Linked DNA regions of Homo sapiens: region 1 is linked to region 2. The links come from fine-mapping of genetic effects on gene expression. A gene starts in region 2. The other region holds a variant in brackets. All regions are shown on one strand. Distances are between the middles of the regions.

Evidence for each region.
Region 1: its variant is fine-mapped to the expression of HSPG2 in whole blood (TOPMed, PIP above 0.99).

What each region holds. Positions count from the first base shown.
Region 1 is chr1:21,901,955-21,918,490 of GRCh38, reverse strand. The region is part of intron 1 of HSPG2 (heparan sulfate proteoglycan 2); the gene reads left to right. It also overlaps the pseudogene RPL21P29. Among named protein-coding and RNA genes, the nearest start is that of HSPG2, 27 kb to the left of the region's middle. RefSeq lists a silencer at 2,944-3,099 and enhancers at 6,926-7,641, 7,642-8,357, 8,354-8,423, 8,474-8,533, 8,594-8,643 and 1 more. The variant G/A (reference allele first, on the strand shown) is at 10,330.
Region 2 is chr1:21,932,807-21,941,216 of GRCh38, reverse strand. HSPG2 (heparan sulfate proteoglycan 2) reads left to right here and starts at 3,907. Exons shown (of 97, transcript NM_005529.7): 1 at 3,907-4,062. The coding sequence starts at 4,000. RefSeq lists a silencer at 3,519-3,868 and an enhancer at 4,616-5,457.

The sequences.
Region 1 (16,536 bases), 27 kb after region 2:
CACCCCTCCTTTTTTTTTTTTTTATTCCCACAGAGTCTCACTTTGTTGCCCATGCTGGAGTGCAGTGGCGCCATCTTGGCTCACTGCAACCTCTGCCTTCCAGGTTCAAGTGATTCTCCTGCCTCAGCCTCCCAAGAAGCTGGGACTACAGGTGTGCGCCACCACACCCTGCTAATTTTTGTATTTTTAGTAGAGACAGGGTTTTACTATGTTGGCCAGGCTGGTCTCGAACTCCTGACCTCAGGTGATCCGCCTGCCTCGGCCTCCCAAAGTGCTGAGATTACAGACGTGAGCAACTGCACACGGCCTGTTGTCCCATTTTACAGAGGTACACATTGAAGTTCAGTGCAGGGAAGGGTCTGGACTCCTCTGCTGGGATCACAGGAGGCTCGGGAAGAGCCATAAGAAATTGAGTCCTCAAACTTATAAGCCAATATTATAATTCAGTTCAACATAGTAAGTATTTGTTTATTATCCCCTAGCTGCTGGACATTAGGAAGTATCTAAAGGTTGAATATATACATATGTTTAAAAGATGAAAAAAAAAAACTTGGTGTCTGTCCCCAAGGAGCTTTGGTTCCAGCAGGAGAGAAGAGACAGTAACTCAAGTGATTATAATTAAGACTGAATCTCTAGTGTTCTGAGGTAGAAATTAAGTCCACATATTTGTAGGGAGAAGGATGTCTTTATAGGGGTTCCAAAAAGTCTTTAGAGTGGAGGTGGTGATTGAGTGGGCCTTGAAGGATGGATGAATAGATTAGCTCGAAGGGCATGGGAACAGCATTCCAAGAAGAGGGAACCACATGACTAAAGGCCTAGAGGCAGGCAAATGTGCCCTGTGTTACCCTGAGTGGGTGTCGTCCAGTTCTTAGGAGCCTCAGGGGGCTGATGGGTGGAGAAGTCCAAGCCCAGCTTTTTTGCCATTGAAGATTCTCAGTGTTCTTAAAGACATGGCTTCTCGACCAACTGGGACTGTTCCATCCCCATTCTGCCCTGTCTTTTATTTTTATTTATTTATTTATTTATTTATTTATTTATTTATTTATTTATTTACTTTTGAGACAGGGTCTTGCTCTGTCACCCAGGCTGGAATGCAGTGGCACGATCATGGCCCACTGCAGCCTCGACCTCCTGGGCTCAAGTGATCCTCCCATCTCAGCCTCCCGAGTAGCTGGGACCATAAGCACACACCACCACACTTGGCTGATTTTTGTATTTTTCATAGAGACGGGGTCTCGCCATGTTGCTGAGTCTGGTCCCAAACTTCTTGGGCTCAAGCAATCCACCTGTCTCAGCCTCCCGAAGAGCTAGGATTACAGGCATGTGCCACCGCGCCCAGCCATTCTGCCCTTTCTTAGTGTGAAAAAATCAAAGACCTTTGTAAACAGGCGGTCAGAACTTCTGGTCAGCGTGTGATAACTGGTGTAGCTGACAGAATTCAGGCCAAAAGCAGACAGACTTGATATCTTGATTAACGAGGCAGCCTTATCACCACACATGTTCGATTTCCGTTAGCCGTTTCCAGCCTTGACAATAACCATGGGTGGGGAGCCCTGTGGCAGAGCCAGGCCTGGTTCCGATTTTGCCTCTGCAGCCTACAGCTGTGCAGCCTTGGCAAACCTCAGTTTCCTCCTTTGTAAAATGGAGATAGCTCCATCTCCAGCCTTGGCCTAAGGATCAATGATGGTATAATCTGCACTGTCTGATATGGTAACTGCTAGTCACACGTGACTATTTAATGCAAAATTTAAAATTAAATAAAGTTTTAAATAAAAATTCAGTTTCTTTTTTTTTTTTTTGAGATGGAGTCTCGCACTGTCGCCTGGGCTGGAGTGCAATGGCGCAATCTCGGCTCACTGCAACCTCTGCCTCCTGGGTTCACGCAATTCTCCTGCCTCAGCCTCTGGAGTAACGGGGATTACAGGCACACACCACCACACTGGCAATTTTTTTTGTGTTATTTATTTATTTATTTTTATTTTTTTTAAGACAGAGTCTCGCTCTGTTGCCCAGGCCGGAGTGCAGTGACACAATCTCGGTTCACCGCGAGCTTTGCCTCCAGGATTCATGCCATTCTCCTGCCTCCTCCTCCCGAGTATCTGGCACTACAGGTGCACGCCACCACGCCTGACTAATTGTGTTTTTGTATTACTAATAGAGACAGGGTTTCACCGTGTTAGCCAGGATGGTCTCGATCTCCTGACCTCATGATCCACCCGCCTCGGTCTCCCAAAGTGCTGGGATTACAGGCGTGAGCCACCGCACCCAACCAAATTTTTTGTATTTTTAGTAGAGATGGAGTTTCACTATGTTGGCCAGACTGGTCTCCAACTCCTGACCTCATGATCTGCCCGCCTCAGCCTCCCAAAGTGCTGGGATTACAGGCGTGAGTCACCGTGCCAGGCCTTTTTTTTTTTTTCTTCTTCTTCTTTTCTTTTTTGAGATGGAGTCTTGCTCTGTCACCCAGGCTGGCATGCAGTGGTGTGATCTCGGCTTACTGCAACCTCTGCCTCCCAGGTTCAAGCAATTCTCCTTCCTCAGCCTCCCGAGTAGCTGGGATTACAGGCACACACCACCACGCCCAGCTAATTTTTTTTATTTTTAGTAGAGATGTGGTTTTACCATGTTGGCCAGGCTGGTCTCGAACTCCTGACCTCAGGTGATCCGCCCACCTCGGCCTCCCAAAGTGCTGGGATTATAGGCGTGAGCCACCATGCCCGGCAAAAAATTCAGTTTCTTGATGGTACTAGCCTCATTTGAAGCGCTTAGTAGCTATCTTATTGGATGAGTGCAGGCACGCAACATTTCCATTGCACCAGAAAGTTCTGTCGGAAGCGCTGTGTATGTTAAGTGCTGGGTATTGCTGGAAGGAGTTGCTGTGGTCATTATCCCTGGTTCCCTGTCCCATATTGGAACCGTTCCAGCTCTCATTGGTTCTTCTTGCTGCTCCTCTCTCTGCTGGGCTCTTCCTGCTTTCTTCTCGGCAGCCTCTCACTCTCCCTTTGCCTGACCACACCCATAATGTGAAAAACTCCATGACTTGCCTTCATCCAGCTCCTCTGCCCCTGTTATTTTCCCACGTGCTCCCTGCAGCCTGTCTGCATATCTGCCCTTTCAGCTGCTGGCATCTGGAATCTCCATGTCCGGGCTCCGAAATTCCCACTACCCATTCCCAGTGGGAGAAGGGGAGGAGGCCTCCCCTGGCAGTCCCTAGTCCCCAGCTCCCAGCAGAGGTGCCGGCTGCCTGGGCCCCTTAGCGGTGTAGAGATGATGGTTTGTTGTGACGGGGGCACCCTGCCCGCTCTAACGCGCCCGTATCAGGGCGCCAAGTGTGCTGTTTGCACTTGGCTGGGCCTCACGATCTGGCCGGGTGCCCGTGAGGGCTGGCCCGCTGGCACCCTTGGTAACAAAGGTAACAAAGGCCAATCATGGACCCTCCGCCTGGTCAGGAACATAAGGAGCCGGTCCTGGGCTGGGCCCTGGGGGTGAGGGACGTCTGACACCCAGAACCAGAGTGCAGGACAGAGGCCGTGGCTGTGGCTGGGCTCTGGGTGCTGAGTGGGACAAGGCCCAGGCAGGCATAGGCAGGATGTGAGCTTTTGGGGGTCAGGCAGGTGGTTGCTCTGGGCAGTTCAGGTGGGCAGGGTCTGCACCTGGCATTCACACCTGCCCGGGGAGGAGCTTTGGCCTGAGATGCCAGAGAAGCTCAAGGTCACCTCCCAGCACCATCCTTTCTCCTCCCCTTCCTTTTGGGGAGGAGAAAGTCATCTGCGAAGTGGATGGAACAGGCATCTCTAGCCCATGAGTGACAAGGACATTGAGGCCCTGCAAGGAGCTGCAGCTGGTCTGAGATCACATGGCCAATCCCTGGAAGAATCAGAGCTTGGACTCAGACACCTGCGCTTTTCTACCTTTCTGCTCCTCCCCATGGGAGTTGTGAAGCCAGTCGTCCCTGGACACCTGGCTATGGAGGGTCAGATCCTGGCCCTGCCAGATTCTCCTCCGGGGGATAGAGACAATTACACCTAGCTCTCAGGGCAGTCATGGGGGTTAGATAACCGGCCTCCTGGCTGTTTTCCAAAACATTCTGAGGCTCCTCCTGCCTCTGGGGTCTTTATAGATGCTGCTCCTGGTGCCTGGGTGCTCTTCCTCTAAGTATGCACCTGACTTGCTCTGTCAGCATCACCCTCCATACCCAGGGAAATAGCAACCCTCAACAGGCCACTCCCCGTCCCCTCACCCTGCTGTATTTCCTTTTCAGCACTCTCACCATTTGACATGTATATTTGGGGTATTAATTTATGGTCCATCGGTCTCCAAGTAGACGGTCAGCACCAGCAAGGGCAGAGAACATTGTGTGGCTCATAGTACCTGCTCCTATAATGATTACTGTTTTTTCCCCCTTCTCTTTCTAATACTTCCCAATACCTAATAGCCACTGTTTACTGGGCCCTCTCTACACACCAGATCCTGGGCTAAATGACTCACAGCTTAGCGCCACAAATTTCACAGGTTCCTGTCACAGGCTGCTGTCACTTTTGTATTAGAATTGAGGGCGGAAGGCACTGCAGTGCCTTACCCAGAGCCACCCAGCTGGCAAGCGGCAGAGCCATGCCTCCGGCTGGGTTAGTCCCACCCAGAACTCACACTGTACTGCCTCTTGTGTTGGGTTTATGAGATCAGAGCCTTCATCCAAACTGGGGACTCAGAATCCACGTATGATGGGATTGGATGGATCAGATTTGGGGGTAGCTCTCAATCTTTTGGGGGTTCCCCTTCTAGCCTTCTCCTCCTTCCCTGTGCCCAGCACACATTTCCTAGGATGGCTCCTTCCCTGGGATTGGTCAGTTAGTTACAGCCGGGCTCACTGCCCCAGAATGACAGGTACCCTTTGGCTGGGGGGACCCAGCAGCTAACCTAAGGCCTGGGGGTTGGGCAGGGAGCAGAGAGTGGGTCCAGGTTCCTGGCTGTCCGTGGGCTGTCTGAGGGCAGGTGGACAGGATGTTCCCTGGGGCAGCAGACATTCCTGGTCGAAGGTGACAGGCAGCGGGGAGATTTACCATTTCCGGTAACCCGAGTCCCTGGGATGTCGCATTCTCTTTGCCAAGGACACGGCATCCCTCCCTTGCCAGCCCTTCCTGCCATTTCCTAGGCTGGGCCTGTCTGACTGGGGCTTGAAGACAGGCTGGAGGGACCAGCTCTGGGTGCCAGAGGTTGAGACTGAGGGCTCTGGCCCTGATTAGCACCCCCACAAAGACCTAGCCCATTGCCACCCTCCCAGAGGCCTCATCTGTGTAGCCCCTTATCCTGGCCTTTGAGAATCCTTGCCCCAAGGAGAGGAGGAGGTGGCTTCGTGAAAGGTAAATGACCCTTTGTTAGGAACCAAGAGGCTGGGTCCTGGATCTGCCTCTGCCAATCGAGTTGCTGGGAGGCTCCTCTCTCTTCTCACGGCTGCCCAAAAGCACCATTCTTAACACTCTGTATACATAATCCAGCTTTTTTTTTTTTTTTGAGCTAGAGCCTCACTCTTTCGCCCAGGCTGGAGTGCAGTGGTGCAATCTCAGCTCACTGCAACCTCCGCCTCCCGGGTTCAAGTGATTCTCCTGCCTCAGCTCCCCAGGTAGCTGAGATTATAGGCACATGCCACCATGCTGTGCTAATTTTTATATTTTTAGTGGAGATGAGGTTTCACCGTGTTGGCCAGGCTGGTATCAAACTCCTGATCTTAAGTAATCCGCCTGCCTCGGCCTCCCAAATTGCTGGGGTTACAGACACAAGCCACTGCGCCCAGCAATAATTATTAATCCAACATTATGGGGGTATGGGAGGCACAAAAATGAGGCTCAAAGTGATAAAGTTCCCCAGCAGCCGGAAGTGTCAGAGATGGGATTGAACCCAGGCCCTCCAAGTCTGGTTGGTTCCCCATAACATGCTCACTTCCCTTCTTTGGGATTTGGTTTCCCCATCTGATAAGTGAGGGTGTTGGCTAGGTGATCCCTCCCAGCTTGGACAGTACAGGATCCAGGAATGCATTGGAACCTTTTGCAGGCAGGTTTCTCTTGTGTCTCATTCTCCCCGGGGGTCTTTGGAGAGCTCACTCACTTGGTGTGTGAGCTCTGGGGTGGATAGGACTGGGAGAGAAGGAAGAAGTGGTACTTACACCTCGTAAGTGCCTGATACTAGCACTTAGGTTGTCCTGTTGAATTCTGACGGCAGCCTTGTGAGGGGGTCATTTTTATTCCCATTTTACAGATGAAGACACAGAGGCTCAGAGAGGTCAAGTGATTTGCCCAGGGCCACACAGCTAGGAAACTGCCAGGCTAAAGTGTCCAGTCAACAGTTAACAGTGGTATGGGGTGGCATGTGCCCAACACACATTTCCTAGGATGGCTTTGACTTATTAATAAAATATGATAGATATAGTAGTCATCGCAAAAAACTATCAACGTGTCTCAGAGATTTGAATACCTCTGCATCCAAACTTCACCTCCCAGGCTGCCTCTGACACTCAGAAGTAGCCCAGAAATCCTTTATTTAGTGGTTTCTTGATTTCTGCTTTGGAAAATATGGTCAGTTGTAATTATGGGTATGTGAGAGTTCAGAGGAGAGAGAGCTGCGTGGGCTGGAGCGGGCTGGAAAGGCTTGGCACCGAACTGGGAGTGGAGCTGGGCTGGCCGGCAGCTGAGGGGGCTGAGATGGGCTGGGGTGGGCCAAGCTCACAGCCTCCAGGGACGTTTCCTGAAGGGCCTGCAGTGGGGCTGTGCACCAGGGAAATTGCAAGCCTCTTCAGGACTCCCTCCCTCCCGGCCCTGCACCTCCCCACGGGGGCCCTGGAGCAGGCCAGGCTCCAGTTAAGGCATGTTCAGCCCCAGACCTTTGCTCCGGCCTCTCCACCCAGGCTTCCCAGGGAACTGGGTAAAGGGCTGTGCTATGGGACAGCGAGGCCAGGCACCCTGAGGCTTGAGCAGTTGACAGCATGAGGACTAAGATGACCCCAGCCAGCCCGCCCACCCCCTCCACACCCCCACTCCCTGCCTGCTCTGGGGCCCTTGGCCCTGAGGCCTCAGCAGCTGTCAGCAGGGAAGGGTGACAGAGGAGGGCCAGAGGTGACTTCCCAGCCTGCCCATTCTCCCCCTGCTTGGGCCAGGCCCAGAGCTCTCCCCAGCTGTTGTCAGCAGCTGTGGAGCTTTGTTCTGGGGCCAGCTCTGGGTAGCCCCCTCCTCCCAGTACATCTTCCCACCATCCTTCACAGCTGCTGCCCTTGGGGAGGGGCTGGGGCTAGTGTGGGAGACAGAGTCACATCTTTGGTTCCTTTGATCCTACCAACGACCTGAAGAAGAGGAATTCATGCCCTTGTTTTTATGGAAGAGAAAACTGATTCAGAGAGGCCAAGCAACTTGCTTGAAGTCACACAGCTTAGTGGCTGACTTCAGGCTCCTGGCTCCCCACCCAGTGCTCTCCGACTGCCTTTCTTCAATGTGCATTTGGCGCAGGATGCCAGGGGCTTCAGGGCTCCTGGGCTTGACTCCCAGCTTGGCCATTTGCGACCTCAGGCGAGCTGCTTAACCACCTGGACTGGAACTCCCGTTTTCTTGCTTGTGAAATAAGATAATGGTACCGACCTCTTGGGACTGTTGAGCAAATTAAATCAGATAATTAACATCAGGTACTTAGCATAAGGCTTGATGTGTTCTTTGTGCTCAAGCTGAGAGCTGGCAACGTTACCATCGAGGGTATTAACCACCTGTGTGCCTGGCATTCTGGGTGGTTCTATGGAGGCTACAGACACATTCTTTAAATATTTGTATCAGTCAGTAAATATTTATTTGGCACCTACTGTGTGCCAGGTGCTAGAAAAAGGGCAGCGACAAAACAGACCAATTCCCGTTCCTGCTTATATTCTGCTTCACAAAGTGGCTGGAGAGACACTACTCATCCTAACCATGGAAGCCTCTGGAGTGCTTTCACACACTGGGATTCACATCCATATTTTGCAGATGAGAAAACTGGGACCCAGAGAAGATCGATGGCAGAGTTGAGCCAGGACCCAGCTTTTCTGAGGGTCTCAGGCAGTGCTGCTGAGCACAGGAGGCAGCCCTGTGGGCTTCCTGGAGGAGGCATTTTGTGCTGAATCTTACAGGGCCTCAGGGCCTGGCAGGGGAGGTGGGGAACAGTACAGGATGCAGCCACCACAGTCTGGGCAGGAACAATTTCAGGAAGGTCTTACGGAGGGCAAGGCCTTTTGTTCCCCAGGGAGGAGGCCCAGTCAGAGCTTTAAATACCCCGTGCAGCCCAGAATAGCCCCCATTGTGTTGGTCTGCAGCTGGGGGACCCAGGGAGGAACCAACATCGCCATGGAGGATCCTGAGGGGGCTGATTCTGGCAGATTCTGGAGGTGGGGCGGGGAGGTCTTCAGGCACTTCCCTATATGGTGCGGTGGCATTTCTGTGGAAGGCTTTTCTAGTCTGGCTCAGGCAGGAAGGCCTGCTTTGTGGGAAGGGTGGAGCAGCAGCTCAAGTTCTGCGTGAGCAACGTGCAGCTGAGGGGGGAGCCTGGTGGGTGGGGGACTCCCAGGGACGGCTCTGTGCCTGACTGAAGGTGCCTCTTTGTGCACCAGAGGTATGTGTGCATTGGCCCACTGGGCCCTCCTGTAGGTGGGCCTAGCCCAGGCCCTTGCCAGGGCCTCTTGGCACCCTCTCCTGCTCTAGCTATTTTGGGCACTGGCTGTGTTCGGGTTTGGGGAGTGATGGGTAATCCTGCCTAGACCAAGGCTGCTGGGGTGAGGTTGGTGGGGTACTGACTGGACTGCCATTCCAGCTCCCTGAATCTTTGATCACTGTAGCCTCTGCCCCTGGCTTCAGCTTCAAAGGGTCATGGTCAGCAGACTCTGAGGGGATGCCAGCCCCACTGATGAGGCAGAGAAGGGTGCCAGACAAGCCTGTCCCTTGGGACATTCCCTGCTCTCAGTATCAGGGATAGTTGTGCTTTTTCTAAGCAACTGGTTTGTTTTTACATTGTGAGACATGGAATCTAGGGACTGGTCAGGTTTCCTTCTTCCCATTGGCTGCTGGCAAGCTCAGGGCCACATGAGTTGTCCCTTTCCTAGATCTCTGGGATTCAGCATGTGCTCTCTGTCTGCTTGCCTCACTCCAGGCTCCATCTGCCTGCCCTGCCTGAGTTTTTCTTATATTTCTTTAGTTAATATTCTCTTGGCTGTTAAGTGTGCATCTTTGTAAGCTGTCTGCAGCCTTTTTGGAACAGGGCAAGAGGGGAGGTATAAATGAATGATGAGGATGATGGTGATGATGACCCTTTGCTCAGCGGGTCTCTGCAGCCTGACTCCTTCTGGCTCTGTCCTGACATTGTTTCTGTTTTTGTTTTTTGAGATGGAGTCTCACTCTGTCGCCCAGGCTGGAGTGCAATGGCGCCATCTTGGCCCACTGCAACCTCCACCTCCCGGGTTCAAGCGATTCTCCTGCCTCAGCCTCCCAAGTAGCTGGGATTACAGGCATGTGCCACCATGCCCGGCTAATTTTTGTATTTTTTAGTAGAGACGGGGTTTCACCATGTTGGTCAGGCTGGTCTCGAACTCCTGACCACCAGTCCCAAAGTGCTGGAATTATAGGCGTGAGCCACCGCACCCAGCCTGTCCTGACTTTGTAATCCCCTCCTTTAGCCCTGTTCCTTTTGCAGGTGGGACACAGCCTAGAATTTTAGAATCCTAATGTTTTAGAGTGTCAGTGCTCTAAAATATCAAAACCAGAGGAAGCTTTGGGGTCGTTTAAGTTGATGGCTTTCAAACTCATTAAGCAGTGAGACCCTTATTTTAATCAAAATAACAAAGATAATCACAGCAAACACTTTTTTTTTTTTAACAGCCCAGAGGTCTTTTTTTTTTTTTAAATACCTATTATGCCGTGAATTCATAGAGAATAGGTTCCAGCAGCTCAGGCTCCTTCCCATTGGTTCTCACAAAGTGTGCTTTGCTGGGTGGAGCAGGCTGGCGCTTTAGTTGAACCCAGGTACCTTTCTCTTTGGCTTCTCTCTTTTTCTGATCATTCTCCTTCACGCGTTTCAGGAAGCTATCTCGGCTCTCAGAGTGCTTAATGTGCTCAATACGCACATTAATTCTCTTGGCAAGAATCTTGCCCTTAACTTGTTTGTTTACAACAATGCTAGCAGCATACTGGATAACATTGTAGACTCTTCCAGTTTTGCCATGGTAACACTTGTGGGGCGTTCCTTTTTGAACAGTACCCATTCCCTTGATGTCTACAATATCACCTTTCTTATAGATTCGCATATACGTGGCCAAAGGAACAACTCCAT[G/A]TTTTCTAAAAGGCCTGGAGAACATCTATTGGGTGCCTCTCCTCTTTCCCTTTGTGTTCGTCATTTTGGCGAATTACTGGAAGATGGCGGTTCCGGCCGAAAGGCAGCAAACACTTATAGAACATTCACCATGTGCTGTGTTATCTGTAGCATTTTACATCTGTATTTAACCCTCACAACAGCCGTATGAGATAGATATTATTACTATGAATGATCGTGCCCATTTTACACATGAGGAAACGGAGGCACAGAGAGGAGAAATGACTTGCTCATGGCCTCACAGCTAACCAAGGGCTGAACCAGATATTTATGTAGGTGAGAATATAGAAAGGAAAGAGGTGGATTTGTAGCCGGGCACAGTGGCTCATGCCTGTAATCCCAGCACTTTAGGAGGCCGAGGCAGGAGGATCGCTTGAAACCAGGAGTTCGAGACCAGCCTGGGCAACATAGCGAGACCTCATCTCTACAAAAAATAAATTAGCCAGATGTAGTGATGTACACCTATACTCCCAGCTACTTGGAAGGCTGAGGCAGGAGGATATCTTGAGCCTAGGAGGCTCTGAGGAGGCCCACTGCCCTCCAGCCTGGGCGACAGAGCAGAACCCTGTTAAAAAAAAATTGGATGTGTTTTGATGAAAGTGAGTGTTTGGGAAGGGGCCCAAACTCTAACGGTGCCCCGCTTCCACCTCACTCCTGTCCAGAGTGGCCCTGAGGCTGCTGAGGATGGACTGGAGAGCCATGACCTAGGGCTGCTTCATCATCGGACAGAGGGGAGTCTGAGGCCCAGAGAAGGGAAGGGACCAGCGAGCAGAGCTGGTTGGGAGCCCTGTTCTCAGTCGCTGCCCTGAAGAGCACCAGCACCCCCTTACCTGCATGGTCGCCGGCCCTGGGAGTGAGCCCCTGCCCCGGTCTCTGCACTCAGCAGCTGAACGAAGCTCTCTTTCTCTCTGGGGCACAGGTACCTCCAGACTTTCTGGAGGGTCCAAGCGGACCAGGAATGACTGGGTGCTGGGCCACCTTCTCTTTCACCTCCGACAGGAGTCACCCCCTGAGAGAGCAGACTGATGGCCAGGGAGGGAAGGCTCAGGCTGTGTCTGGATTTCTCAGGTGACAGGTGTCAATCACCCTGAGGAGAGAGAACACACCCCTCCTACTACCAGCTAGCCGGCCGCCAGCCCGCTTTTCCTTCCATGGGGCCTTGCGGCTTTTCTTATCTTCAAGAGCCTCCTTTACAGAGCCCCTGGGTACTGGGGAGCATATCTTACGTCTAAAATCTTACTTAAGGCTAACTTGAGGGAAAGGCGGGATGGTTGGGGTGGTGTTCCCAAAGTGTGTTCTGTGGAACCCTAGTCTAGTGAGCCTTGCATACATAAAAGGTTCCAAGTTAAGCAACTTGGGAAACACCAAATAGTTGCACGTGACCCCCCCCCACCCCCCAGTCCCATCATGTTGCTTCAGTCATTTAGGACTTAGGGAGGCAGCTCAGCTTTGTGTAACCAGCCTTTCCCAGATGTGTTTGTCTCCCCCGCGCCTATTCCCATCCGAGAGTTTCTGTGTCCAGGAAAGGACATGAAGAAAGCAGACATGGGGCGCTTCAGGACGAGGACCCCTTGCTCTGATTTCCAGCTCTGCTCTCCACAGGCCTATCTCAGCCATGGGCCTGGCCCTGCCTGCCCCTTCCTCTTCTTCCTTACAGCAGATGAGGAAAGCCCAGCCTGGGGGCAGGGGGAGCCGACCTCCTTGGCCACAGCTGCCGGGCTGTTCCAGCCTGTTTTTTCCTGTTGCCGATGCCCACGGGAACAAGCGCTGAGTACAGTCACTGAGGCCTGGCTGTCTGGCTGTGTTGCGCAAGGCCCTGGAGCCAGAGTTCTGGCCCCTGCTCGCCTCCGAGGCCCCCACCCACCCCTCCGGGATGCTCTTCAGTGACTATGGGCAGCCTCTTGTCACCCCAGAGATGGGCTTCCCAGCAGGAAAGTCCCAGGCATCATCGGCGGGACCAGGTGGTATGGAGTTCCTTCCAGGTGTGGAGCCAGGGGTCTTAGGTTCAAGTCTTGGTTCTTCCAACCCTGTGACTATGGGCAAGTTAGCTCTCTGAGCCTCAGGCTCCTCACTTATAAACCCCATTAATTAATTAACTAATTAATTGTTTTTAGAGACAGGGTCTCACTCTTTTATCCGGACTGGAGTACAGTGGTGCAATCATAGCTCACTGCAGCCTCGAGCTCCTGGCTCAAGCAGTCCTCCTGCCTCAGCCTCCTAAGTAGCTGGGACTACAGGTGTGCACCACCACAACGGGCTGATTTTTAATTTTTTTGTAGAGACAGAGTCTCACTATGTTGTCCAGGCTGGTCTTGAACGCCTGGCCTCAAGTAATCCTCCTGTCTCAGCCTTCATTAATTAATTCAACAATTTATTTTTTTAGATGGATTTTCACTCTTATTGCCCAGGCTGGAGTGCAATGGCACAGTCTTGGCTCACTGCAACCTCTGCCTCCTGGGTTCAAGTGATTCTCCTGCCTCAGCCTCCCAAGTAGCTGGGATTACAGGCGCCTGCCACCACACCAGGCTAAGTTTTGTATTTTTAGTAGAGATGGGGTTTCACCATGTTGGCCAGGCTGCTCTCGAACTCCTGACCTCAGGTGATCCACCCGCCTCGGCCTCCCAATGTGCTGGGATTATAGGCGTGAGGCACCGACCATGCGCGGCTGAAAGGTGACATTGGAGCAAAAACTGGAAGAAGTGGAGCGAGTGATGGAATATGTGGGGACAGTGTCCCAGGCAGGGGGCTTGGTGTGTTTGACGACTATTGAGAGGATGCATGTGGCTATTTTAGAAGGCAGGGAGTTGGGGGAGCACAGTAGCAAAAGAGGTTGGAGCGTGGCGTGTGTGTGTGTGTGTGTGGGTGTGTGTGGGTGGGTGTGTGTGTAGACAGATTACATAGAACCTGGTTGACCATGATTGTGTGTGTGTGTGTGTGTGTGTGTGTGTGTGGGTGGGTGGTGGGTGTGTGTGTAGACAGATTACATAGAACCTGGTTGGCCATGATAAGGGCTTTTCCTCTCACCCGTTGGTGAGTCAGGAGTCGTGGGAAGGCCTAACCCGACAGGTTCAGGAAGCGGCCGTGGTTGTTAGTGGTGTCTCATGGCAACATAACTTTGTGGAACATTCCGCCCATCCTTCCATAGTCCTGGCACTGTGCAAGGGGCATCATTCATGAAATCTGTGGGCAGTGACCCAGGAGGGTATGGGCAGGCCCAACCAGGTTGGTGTGCCCTTGAAGCCCCACAGACCTGCCAGGGCAGCAGGGCAGCTGGGAGCCGGAGAACCTGAGAACCAAGCCAGGCTGCATGCAGGAGGCTGGCACGTGAACGCTGCAGGTGTTGCCGGCAGCCGTGGTGCCTGGCAGATAGTGTTCGACCCCCAGGGACCTTCTTGCTGGGCAGCCCAGTCCAGAAGCTGTTCCCGCTTAGGCCACCCCCACCGCCTTGGCCACACCTGGCACATGGGTGAGGCAAGGGCATTTCCCGGTGGCTTCCTGGTTCCCTGTAAGCTGGCAGGCAGCTCATTCAGCCACCAGGGGAGACCTAATCTTGGGGTGTCTGTGGGGGACGGAGGAGAGTGCAGGGACTCTGGGGGTACAGGGGAGACTTGGCCTCTGTGACTAGCACCGGGTCAGCAGCACAACTGAGGGGCGGCCCTTTTAAATGGAAAAGCCCACTCGTGCCGCCCTTTGACTCCTCTGCCACTCACACGCGTGTCCCGCTGCACCAGGCTTCCTCCCACCCCGCGAACGTGCCGTGCCCTCTCCAGCCCTGGCCTCAGCGTGTGCCCTTCCCTCCACCTGGTCCGCACTCTTCCCCTTCTCTGCTTTGCTTAGGTGAAGTCATCTCTCAGGCCCAGCTGAGTTAGCATTTCTTCTGGAAATCTTCCCCAGCCTCCCAGCCACCTCCCTAAGTGAGGGGACCCTCCCCTGGGCTCTGCCGGCCCCCTTCCTTCCCCTTCAGCACTCTCTTCGCACGGTGTTGCCAGCACGTGGTTCCGTGGCCTGTGTCCCCCAGGAACATGGAGTTCTGTGTCCATTTCACATTTTGTCCCCCGGGCCCAGCACATAGTAGGTACCCCGTAAGTCGAGGTTGAAGTGACTTGAATTGAACCAAATGGGACAGATCTGATCGATTCTACTTTTTTTAAGGATGAGGAAGCTGAAGCCCCCTAGCTAGAATATGGCCAGGGTGGCCCGGACTTGGAGGTGTCTGACAGCACAGCCTGCTCTGCCCCACCGGCTGGTGGTCAAGTGTTCTCGCCAGTCCCCTGCCTGGTCAGTGCCAGACCGGGTTGGGTGCCCACCCCTAGCTATGTCATAGGAGCCTCCAAGGCAGAGACCACATGGGGCCTGCCTGGAGAAGGGCCAGGCAGATTCAGAGATTGGGACTGTGCCTCTCAAAGAGATCACCGCCTCATTCCACATGCCTCTCCCAGTAGCCCCAGGAAGGAGGCAAAGCGGGGACCTTTTTTTGCTTCCATTTTATTTATTTTTATTTTATTTTATTTATTTATTTTTTGAGATGGAGTTTTGCTCTTGTTGACCAGGCTGGAGTGCAGTGGCGCAATCTTGGCTCACTGCAACCTCTGCCTCCTGGGTTAAACGATTCTCCTGCCTCAGCCTCCAGGGTAGCTGGGATTACAGGCGCACGCCACCACGCCCAGATAATTTTTGTATTTTTAGTAGAGATGGGGTTTCACCATGTTGGCCAGGCTAGTCTCGAACTCCTGACCTCAGGTGATCCGCCTGCCTCTGCCTCCCAAAGTGCGGGGACTACAGGCGTGAGCCACCATGCCCGGCCTTTTGCTCCCATTTCATAGCGGAGAGAACTAATTCTTGGAGGGATTGTTCTGCAGGGACAGGGGTGTCTTGGAACGGATTTCAGGGCCCGTGTGACCTAGTCCCCTCTTTCCCTTAGGATGAAGTGTTATGGCCTCTGTCGTATTAATGGGAACTGAGGACTAGAGGTAATTCTGGCACTTTCAAGCTGTGTAATCTTGGGCAAGTCTCCTTCTGAAGTTAGCTTTCTTCTGTCAGGTGGGTTAATTTCCACCTCAGGGCTGTTGGGCAGGTTCATTCATTTGGTTTGTCCGTGAGTCCGCAGATTTATTAGTACCTACTGTGTGTTTTCTGTTGTGGAGTTGCAGCAATGCTCAAAACAGATCAAAGTCACTGCCTTCCACGTGTTGTTCACATGGACTGAGATGGTGGGTGTGGATGCCCAGTGCATACAGTAGAGACTCACTAAAGTTAGCTAAAAGGTAAAGGAGGCAGGGGCTTGTCCAAGGCAACGTGGTGAGTGCGGGGCTAAGCTGGGACTAGAAACTCCAGACCCCAGCTTCCTGCCCTCTGGGCCTCCGCTGAAGGCCCTGACCTGCCCCAGCGCTCCCGAGAAGCCCTGGATGGAATGCAGCTTTTCCAGGTTGCAGGCCTTGATATGAGCTTACAGAGGGCAAGGGGTCAGAGGTCAGAAGCAGGGCCCTGCTGGCAGCTGTGCCTCTGAGCTAGCCAAATACAGAAGCATGAACCCAGCAGAGGGGAGTCCTGGTTTCAGACTCCGTTCCCATTGCCTTTGCTGTGTGACCTGGAGCAGGTAACTGTACCTCTCTGAGCCTGGTTTCCTTATCTATCAAATGAGTGTGCCTCCAGTGTCTCCCTCGTGAGGTTGTGGTGGATCTGAGTGACGTAAGTCTTGTGAAGACCTTAGCTCAGCCCCTGGCACAAAGAAGCCCTGGATGCGTGTTGGACCCTCTCCTTGTTTGGGGGCGTCCGTATTTCTCCTGGCTGACTGGCTGGTGAAGTTCCTGCCACCTTGGGGGCCCCTGTGTGAGAAGCTGGCAGGCCTCCCGAGTGGCACGGGCAGCACAAGCATGCCAGAGGAGGCTGTGGCCACCTCCCTTCCGGCCCGGCGCCCCTCTCAGACTGCCAGGGGATTAAAGGCCTTTTGGCCTTTGTGTCGGGCTCTGAGCCCCTGGCAGTTTGTACAACAAAGTGCTGCCCCGACAGATTCCTTCCTGTGTGCTGTCTGTCGCCTGTGGACAGGGCACTGGGTGGCCTGGGGGTGGGGCAGGGCACCTTGATCCTGTGTCTGGGGCCTGGGTTGCAGCCGAGTAGGGGAAGCACTTGTTTTGGGGTTACCTAGGAGCCTGCATCCTGGCAGAGGGG
Region 2 (8,410 bases):
TTCCCACATGGACATAGAAACTCTCGTGGGCAGTGTTTAGTTTCACTATTGAATGAATATAGGGCCACAGCTAGCCTTACAGTGCCTTCACTCATATCAGCAAAAAGTACCCATTCTGGGCCGGGTGCAGTGGCTCACGCCTGTAATCCCAGCACTTTGGGAGGCCGAGACGGGTGGATCACTTGAGGTCAGGAGTTCGAGACCAGCCTGGCCAACATGATGAAACCCTGTCTCTACTAAAAATACAAAAAATTAGCCAGGTGTGGTGGCATGTGCCTGTAATCCCAGCTACTTGGGAGGCTGAGGCAGGAGAATCGCTTGAACCCAGGAGGCAGAGGTTGCAGTGAGTTGAGATCGTGCCACTGCACTCCAACCTGGGCAACAGAGCAAGATTCTGTCTCAAAAAGAAAAAAAAAAGTACCCATTCTGGGCAGATGTAGCCCCACAACAGGGCCCATTACAGTTCCTATTTACCCACTTGGCTGCACACCTTTGTTCAGTGAACAACCTGCGCAACTGTCCACTGCAGCCCTGAATGAATGAATGAATGGACAAAGGAATGTGATTAAGATGAATGATAAGCTCTCAGGCAGAGAAAAGATTTGGAATGGGAGTGGAAGCCAGAAGATGAGTCCTACTGAATTTGGAGGAGTGGACAGGTAAGCCACAAACTCCAGCTGCTGGTTCCAGAACCCCCAACACCTATTCTCAGAAGTCAAGCTGTTTGACTATTTCTGCCTATCCAAGCTGTTGTAGTCTCTCCGTGCCCAGGGAACCTTGTATGAGACTTGAGTTGTTTCTCTCCTCGAGTGTGACCAGCACCCTGAACTCTGTGTACATACAGTGAGATTATGGGCGCCTCCAAGGTTTTGCCAAGCCCAGAAGGCCTTGTGCCTGCTCCTCTTCTTAGCCATATGAGGAGATAGCCAGGCTCTAGACAAAGCAACTTGAGAGCATTTGCTAAAGATATCAAGGACTGCAAACTAAAACAGACCCAGGCAAATCCCTTAGTGGGAAGGAGAGGACACAGAATAAATAGGTGGATGACCAATCCTCCGCTGCTGGAGCCGCCCTGGAAGACTTTCTCAACATGCCATATATTCCTGCTTTCTGCGTGTCAGCCCAGCTCCTTCCAGTCCCTAGTCGGCCTTACCATCTCTTTCCTCAACCCCTTTGAGGAAGGAAGACTTATAGCTCTGGGTTAGTCTTGACCAAACATCTACAAAGGGTTGCTTGTTTCCCTTTTTTTCCCCCTTTGCTCATGAGCAAATCATCCAAGAAGCCAAAGCTCTGGTACTTAAAGGGCCCGAGGTAGGGAACAGACACTGAGGCAGCTCATGAAATGCGATTTGTCACGGATGCTGACAAATCCATGGACAGGCAAGGCCTTGGAAAAATCCTGCCACTAGGGCTGGCCACCTGCCAGCTCTGAAGTCAGTGGAGTTTTGAAGCCTTTCTCATCGGACAGGGAGTTTCCAAGTGCAAACCTGGTGTACTCTCCCCTCAAATGGGAGGTCCCTGGGGTGGCTGTGGAGGCTGCTCCTCTATCAGACCTCAGCTCCCCAAGGGCCAAGTCATGTCTCTCTCTTTAGATTGGGAGCACACCAGAAATAGTAATAAGAGAAATGGCTACCACTTATTTCATGCTTACCAAGTGTCTGAAATGGCTGTGTTTTTTAAAAGAAATATATTAATTTATCTTAATTCTCATAACAACACTAAGAGAGACGTCTTAACGTTATTCTCATTTTCTACATGCAGAGACTGAGACATGGAAGTTGAATCATGTGCTCAAGATTGCACGGCTAGGTGGTGGAGGCAGGATTCTCTATCAGACTGAGAACAATACCCGGACAGGGACTATTCTTCCCCACACCTCTATCAGATTAAGAGTTTACTGAGGGCCAAGATTGGGCGTCCCTCCTCTGTCCACCCCTATCTCCCTGTGCGGATCAGAGATAGACCTTATTCAGTGCTGTGCCTGGAGCCTGGGTTGGGGCCAGGCAGTTGGCCTGACTACCGTGGATGCAATTTCTGTTCTTTACAACTCTGAGCTGGTCCCACAGAAATATGCCCCACAGGGCATATTTTGGAGATATCTTTTGGAGATAGGGGATCTATCTGGGATGGGGGTCAGGATGCCAGTGTTTTTTCAATCCCCCAGATGCCTGGATGAGAGGCCCCAATGTGCTTGGGAGCCTGCGGACCCCTATCACAGGGAACATAGCTTCCGGAGCCAGGCCTGGTGCCGCCCAGTGAGCTGGGCATTTCCTTCTGTCCACAGCTCACCTCACTCCTGGCTGCAAACCCAGCCATGAGTTTCTGGAACCTAGCAACTCTCACAGGAAACAATGGAAACTTCAGTTTTATTCTCCTCCTCTATCATTACTCAAAAGGTTTTCCTCAAAGCTACACACACATAGTTTTCCTCTCCACCCATCAGCCTCGGGCTGCCCTGGAAATTTCAGGCAGAAGAGGGGAGCTGAAGAGTAGGCAGTGAATAGGTCTGGGGGCTTGGTGCTGTTTGCTGCCTGCGGTTGGGTCAGAGACAGATCATGGGGCTGTGATTTTACCACCCACCCGAGCATCTGTGATGGGGCTTTGGCAGGGTCTGTCTGTCTGGGCCTGAGTGTGTGAGTTGGTGTGGTTCTGGCTCTGGGGCTGTGATTTATGTGACTCAAAGTTGGTGTGTGAGTGATTTACATGGAAAATGGTGCAGGTGGGGTGGGCAGCTCAGTTCAGTACCCAGTGCCCACTATGAGGCACTGTGATTAGTGGGTGAGAACAGGTAAAAGATACAGGCTGAGGCTGGGTGCGGTGGCTCAATGCCTGTAATCCCATCACTTTGGGAGGGCAAGGCGGGCAGATCACAAGGTCAGGAGTTCGAGACCAGCCTGGCCAACATGGTAAAAACCCCATCTCTATTAAAAATACAAAAATTAGCCAGGCGTGGTGGCACGCCTGTAATCCCAGCTATTCAGGAGGCTGAGGCCGGAGAATTGCTTGAACCCGGAGGCGGAGGTTGCAGTGAGCCAAGATCCCACCACCGCACTCCAGCCTGGGGACAGAGCGAGACTCCTTCTCAAAAAAAAAAAAAAAAAAAAAAACAAGCTGGTAAGCATGTAGGCAATGATGTGGGCCTGTGTGTGAAATGTGCGTGCCTGCGAGGAATCTATGTGAAAAGGCGTCCTCCCGCTCCGTGACTTGTTGGGATGTATGCGTGAGTGAGGGGCTGAGTGTGGTGTGAGGGCTGTCTCCTGTGTCCCTGGTGGAGGTGAGAGTTTGGAAGCGAGTTAAGTGTGCATGTGAGCCGGTGAGGATTGTTGGTACTTCAGAGTTGGGTCCAGAGTGTGAAAGTGTTCCCGGGTAGCGCACAAGTGTGTTCGTGCAGTAAAGTTATGGTGTGAAGGTGTTCTTGGGTGTGGAAGTTGGCGTGCACGTGTGGCGCGGAGCGGCAGCTGCGTGCGTGTGAGCGTGGGAAGGAGATCCCGGGATCTTCAAAAGCTGCGCGAGTGGAGTCGGCCGTGCGGGGCGTGCAGGGGCGTGGAAGTCGGCGGCGCGCGCGGGGAAGCGGGGGAGCCGGGGATCGGGGAGGCGAGAGCGCCTGGCCCGGCGGCCCCATCCCATGCCCGGGCCCGGGCCCCCGGTCCCCCGCCCCGTCCCATCCCATACTCCAGGCCGGGTTTGGCGGGGAGCCGGGCCGGGCCGCGGCCCGCGCGGAGGGGGCTGGGGGCCCAGACAAAGGCCTAGTAGGCTGCGCGGCCGGCTGGGGCGAGCAGAGCCCGCGGCCCGGGGGCGGTCCGTGGGCGGGGCCTGGCGCTCCGGGGAGGGGCGGTTCGGGGGCGGGGCCGGCGCTGCGGGGGCGGGGCGGGCGGGGAGGAAAGGGGGCGGTGGGGAGAGGGCCGCGCTGTCCCGAGCTGGCCGGCGAGCGGGCGGCTGCGGGCGGCGCGGAGCGGGCGGCGCGGAGCGAGCGAGCGAGAGAGCGGCGCGGGCCGGGCCATGGGGTGGCGGGCGGCGGGCGCGCTGCTGCTGGCGCTGCTGCTGCACGGGCGGCTGCTGGCGGTGAGTGTGCGGGGCAGAGGGGCGGGGGGCGGGGGCGGAGGGGCTAGGGGCGCCCCGGTCCCGCTCGCCGCCTCCCGCCAACTTGGCTGGGGCGCCCAAGGCTGCGCGGCGGGGACTCTGGCCCGGGACGGCGGCGCCCGCCGGGGACCCCGGGCCGGCGCCACCCTGCGGCATGGGGCTAATCCAGGGGGGCCACCAGTCAGGACCCTTCGTGGGGCTGGGGGCGGGGCTGGCCCGTGTGGGAGCCCGTGGGTCTCTCGGCCACGTTGCCGAGTGCTGGAGTCTCGCTGGGCATGGTCCGGCCTACCATTCCTGGGGACCAGGAGGGGAAACTTTGAGCAGGGTGGGAACTTGGCAGGACGAGGGAACCCTTCTGCGCCAGCTTGGCAGAACGGCCACTCAGTGGTGATGGGGACCCTATGAGTCTCGCTGAAACTTTACCACACCGTCTATCACCTTGGGGAGCTTGGACCCAGGTAGGCACAAGCAAAACTTTTGGGACAGAACTGAAGCTTGTGTGGAACACCCACGGGCCTTGGAGTCATACAGCCGAAGAGTTGAATCAATCCCTGCCTTTCACTGAGTAACTGTGTGACCTGGGGCACGCTAGTTAACCTCTCTGAGGCCAGCCCCACGTGGGTCAAGGGAACTCAAAATGCACGGCCTCAAAATGCATAGCTGCAGGGCGTTGCTGGACTGCGTGGAATGAGCTGCAAAGTGCGTGGTGCGGGGATGCAGTGCACCCTTGGGGGACCCGAGTTCCCCAGCTTTCCTCTTCCCAGGTCTCCAAGAGGCAGGGAGAGGCCTGCCCTTGCAGTCTAGTCCCCTACTCTGAGCTTAGGTGGAGGAAAAGGGAATTCTACGGTCAGGAATCCCGAGGCTTAGAAGGCACTTGGCCAGCAGAGGCCCTGAGGACCTGAGTGAACTTGAGGAGGACTGGGTGGGGTCGGTGGGCAGGGAGCTAGTGGCAGATGTGGGTGGGGGCACATCTGGGGAGCCGAGCCTACCGTGGGGAGCCACAGAGCCACCCCCACTCTCTCCGAGGTGCTCCTAGGCAGTCCCCATACCTGCCTCCCTGTTCTCTGAGCCAAGAGAGGGACTTTTCTAACCAGGCTGGTGTTTACCCAGGAACTGCCTGCCTGGCCTCACCTTCCTGGCTTCATCGCACCTCTACCCTCCTGAGTCACTCGTCAAGCCCCCACCCAGACCTGGCTCCTCACTGCTCTTGCCCCACCCACCCAGCACTTCTCCTCCCCCATCCCCACTCTGGGCAGCCTCCTCTGTCGTCCTCCTGTTTCAGCCTCTCACCCCAAAATATTCAGCAGGGCCATCCAGTAGCTCCCTAGTCTTGACCTGAACTTGCACTCCTGGCACTGACTTTTACTTTTCCCAACGCACCAACCTAGCACGTGGGATGTTTTCCGAGGCCCAACAGTCTTTCCTGACCTTCCCCCAGCTCTGCCCCCGATGAGGGGCTCCTCCATGCCCGGGTGCGGTAGGATGGCGGTGGGTGGAGTTGTTTGCTGTGTGCATGAGGAATTTCCACAGACATTCCTGGACCGTGGCAGATCATCTCATTCACTTGTTCATTCAACAGATCATCACTGAGCGACATTCCATGGCAGTCACTGGGAGTACAGAGGTTCATTCTTTGGGCAGATATTTGCCATGCACCTACTGTGTGCCAGTGAACCAGTGAACCTCGTGTGGTGCTAGGGGCTGGGGTGGGTTGGACCAGCAAGGACAGGCCCTGTCTGTGCCTTCCCAGCACTCACAGGCTGGTGGGCGGTAATTTAGACAAATAAACAGGCAGCTCCAATCCTGTGGGATTAGAGAGCCTTCTCAGCAACACATGGAGGGTCGCTGTCCCACCCCAGGCTGCTGGTGGTGGGCTGGAAAGAGCTTGGCCCCTGAAGTCTCTTTATAAAATTCTTTTTAAAAAGTTTTTCAGGCCAGGCGCGGTGGCTCATGCCTGTAATCCCAGCACTTTGGGAGGCCACGGTGGGCGGATCACGAGGTCAGGAGTTTGAGACCAGCCTGGCCAACATAGTGAAACCCCATCTGTACTGAAAATACAAAAATTAGACGGGTGTGGTGGCGCATGCTTGTAATCCCAACTACTCGGGAGGCTGAGGCAGGAGAATCGCTTGAACCCAGGAGGCGGAGGTTGCAGTGAGCTGAGACCACACCATTGCACTCCAGCCTGGGTGACAGAGTGAGACTCCGCCTCAAAACAAACAAACAATAAAAAGTTTTTCGGGGCCAGGCGCGGTGGCACACGCCAGTAATCCCAGGACTTTGGGAGGCCGAGGCGAGCGGATCATGAGGTCAGGAGTTCAAGATCAGCCTGGCCAGCATAGTGAAACCCTGTCTCTACTAAAAATGCAAAAAGTTAGCCAGGCATGGTGGCACGTACCTGTAGTCCCAGCTACTCCGGAGGCTGAGGCAGGAGAATGGCGTTAACCCGGGAGGCGGAGCTTGCAGTGAGCCGAGATCGCGCCACTGCACTCCAGCCTGGGCGACAGAGCAAGACTCTGTCTCAAAAAAAAAAAAAGAGGGCATCACACTTTGTTGCCCAGGCTGGTCTCAAACTCCTGGCCTCAAGCGATCCTCTCGCCTCGGTCTCCTAAAGTGTTGGGATGACAGGCATAAGCCATCATGCCTGGCCTGTCTCTGAAGTCTTACAGACCCAAGTATGAGTCTCTGGGCTGCGGTTTCTGGCTGTGTGATCTGGGGCGAGTTCCTCTCTCTGAGCCTTAGTTTCCAAATCTGTACAATGGGGTTGAGGAGTTTGTTGCAAGTCAAAAATGAGATCAATTCCTAGCCCAGGCTCCCAGCACACCTTGGACCCTCTTTGCCTGCTACCCTTGCTCTCATCTGCCCTTCAGTTTGGTCCGGAGCCAGTGGCTTATGGGGAAGGGTTGGGCACAGCAGCAGGGTGAGATGGGCCTTAGGGAGCTCCAGGCTTCCCCGGGACGGGGGACAGGACCACAGGAAGCTGATCTGTGATTAAGTGTGGGTGTAATTTCAGCTGTTGGGAGGTGAGGAGGCTTGCTGGAGGAGGGGGCTGGGCCTGGGTGACTCGGCAGGCCTTGGCCTGCTGACCCCTTTAGGGCGGCCCTGCAGGGGACAGGCGTCTTGAGGGAGCCTCGGTGGTGATTAAGGTGTTTTCCAGGGCCTAGGAGGGAAGTCGCTGAGATACCTGTTTCCTGCCTCAGCTGGATTTCCTCACTGGGGAGGCTGCCAGCTGAACTGCAGGAGCCTCCCCTTCCTGGCGGTCCCTCAGCCCTCCTCCACGCAGCCAGCTGCTCTGTCACCTGACACTAGCCTACTTGTTCCGTACCTGCAGCCGGCACAGGATGGGGTTTTGAGTGTGCCCTGGACATTCCCGGAGGGAAGGAGGGCAGGCTGCAGGTCTGTCTGCAGGGTAGAAGCTGGAAGGGGCAGAGATGGACCACCCCCCCATCCCTTAGGCCCATTTCCCCCTGTCTGGGGAGTTGTGGCCCCTGCCTGGCTTGGCCCGGGCCTGCTCTCAGGCTGAGCGCAGACAAGTTAGGATCTGTGGGTCTGAAGCCCTGCCCGGGAGACGGTGGAAAGAAGGTGGCAGGAGGTGACTGGGTTCAGGGCCCGGAAGACGGGTGAGCAAAGTGGAGGGGAAGGAGCTCTTGGGGTGCCAGGCTGGATGATGACACAGTAATACGGGTACTTCAGACTTACCCAGTACCCACTGTCTGCTCTGAGTTTCTCAGTGAATCCTCCCATTCACCTGTGTTTCCTGCTCACCACCTCCCTGCGGTGCTCAGAATTAGGTCCCAGCCCCTGACTTAATATAGCCTACGAGGCCCTGCAACACCCGGCCTCCTGCCACCTGCTCCTCTCAAACTCCTCCAGCTATACCAGTCTTTGTTTCTTTTTCTTTTCTTTTTTTTTTTTTTGAGACAGGGTCTCACACTGTCACCCAGGCTGGAGTGCAGTGGCACAATCACAGCTCACCGCTGCCTCAACCTCCCACGCTCAGGTGATCCTCCCACCTCAGCCCCCTGAGTAGCTGGGACTACAGACACCCTCCTCTACACCTGGCTAATTTTTGTATTTTTTATAGAGACAGGGTTTTGCCATGTTCCCCCAGGCAGGTCTCGAACTCCTGGGCTCAAATGATCCACCCCCTTCGGCCTCCCAAAGTGCTAGGATTATAGGCGTGAGCCACTGCACCCAGCCTTTTCTTTTCTAATGAATATAAAAATTTAAAACAAATAGAGATGGGATCTTGTTGTATTGCCCAGGCTGGTCCCAAACTCTTTAACTCAAGCTATCCTCCCACCTCAGCCTTCTGAAGTGCTAGGATTAT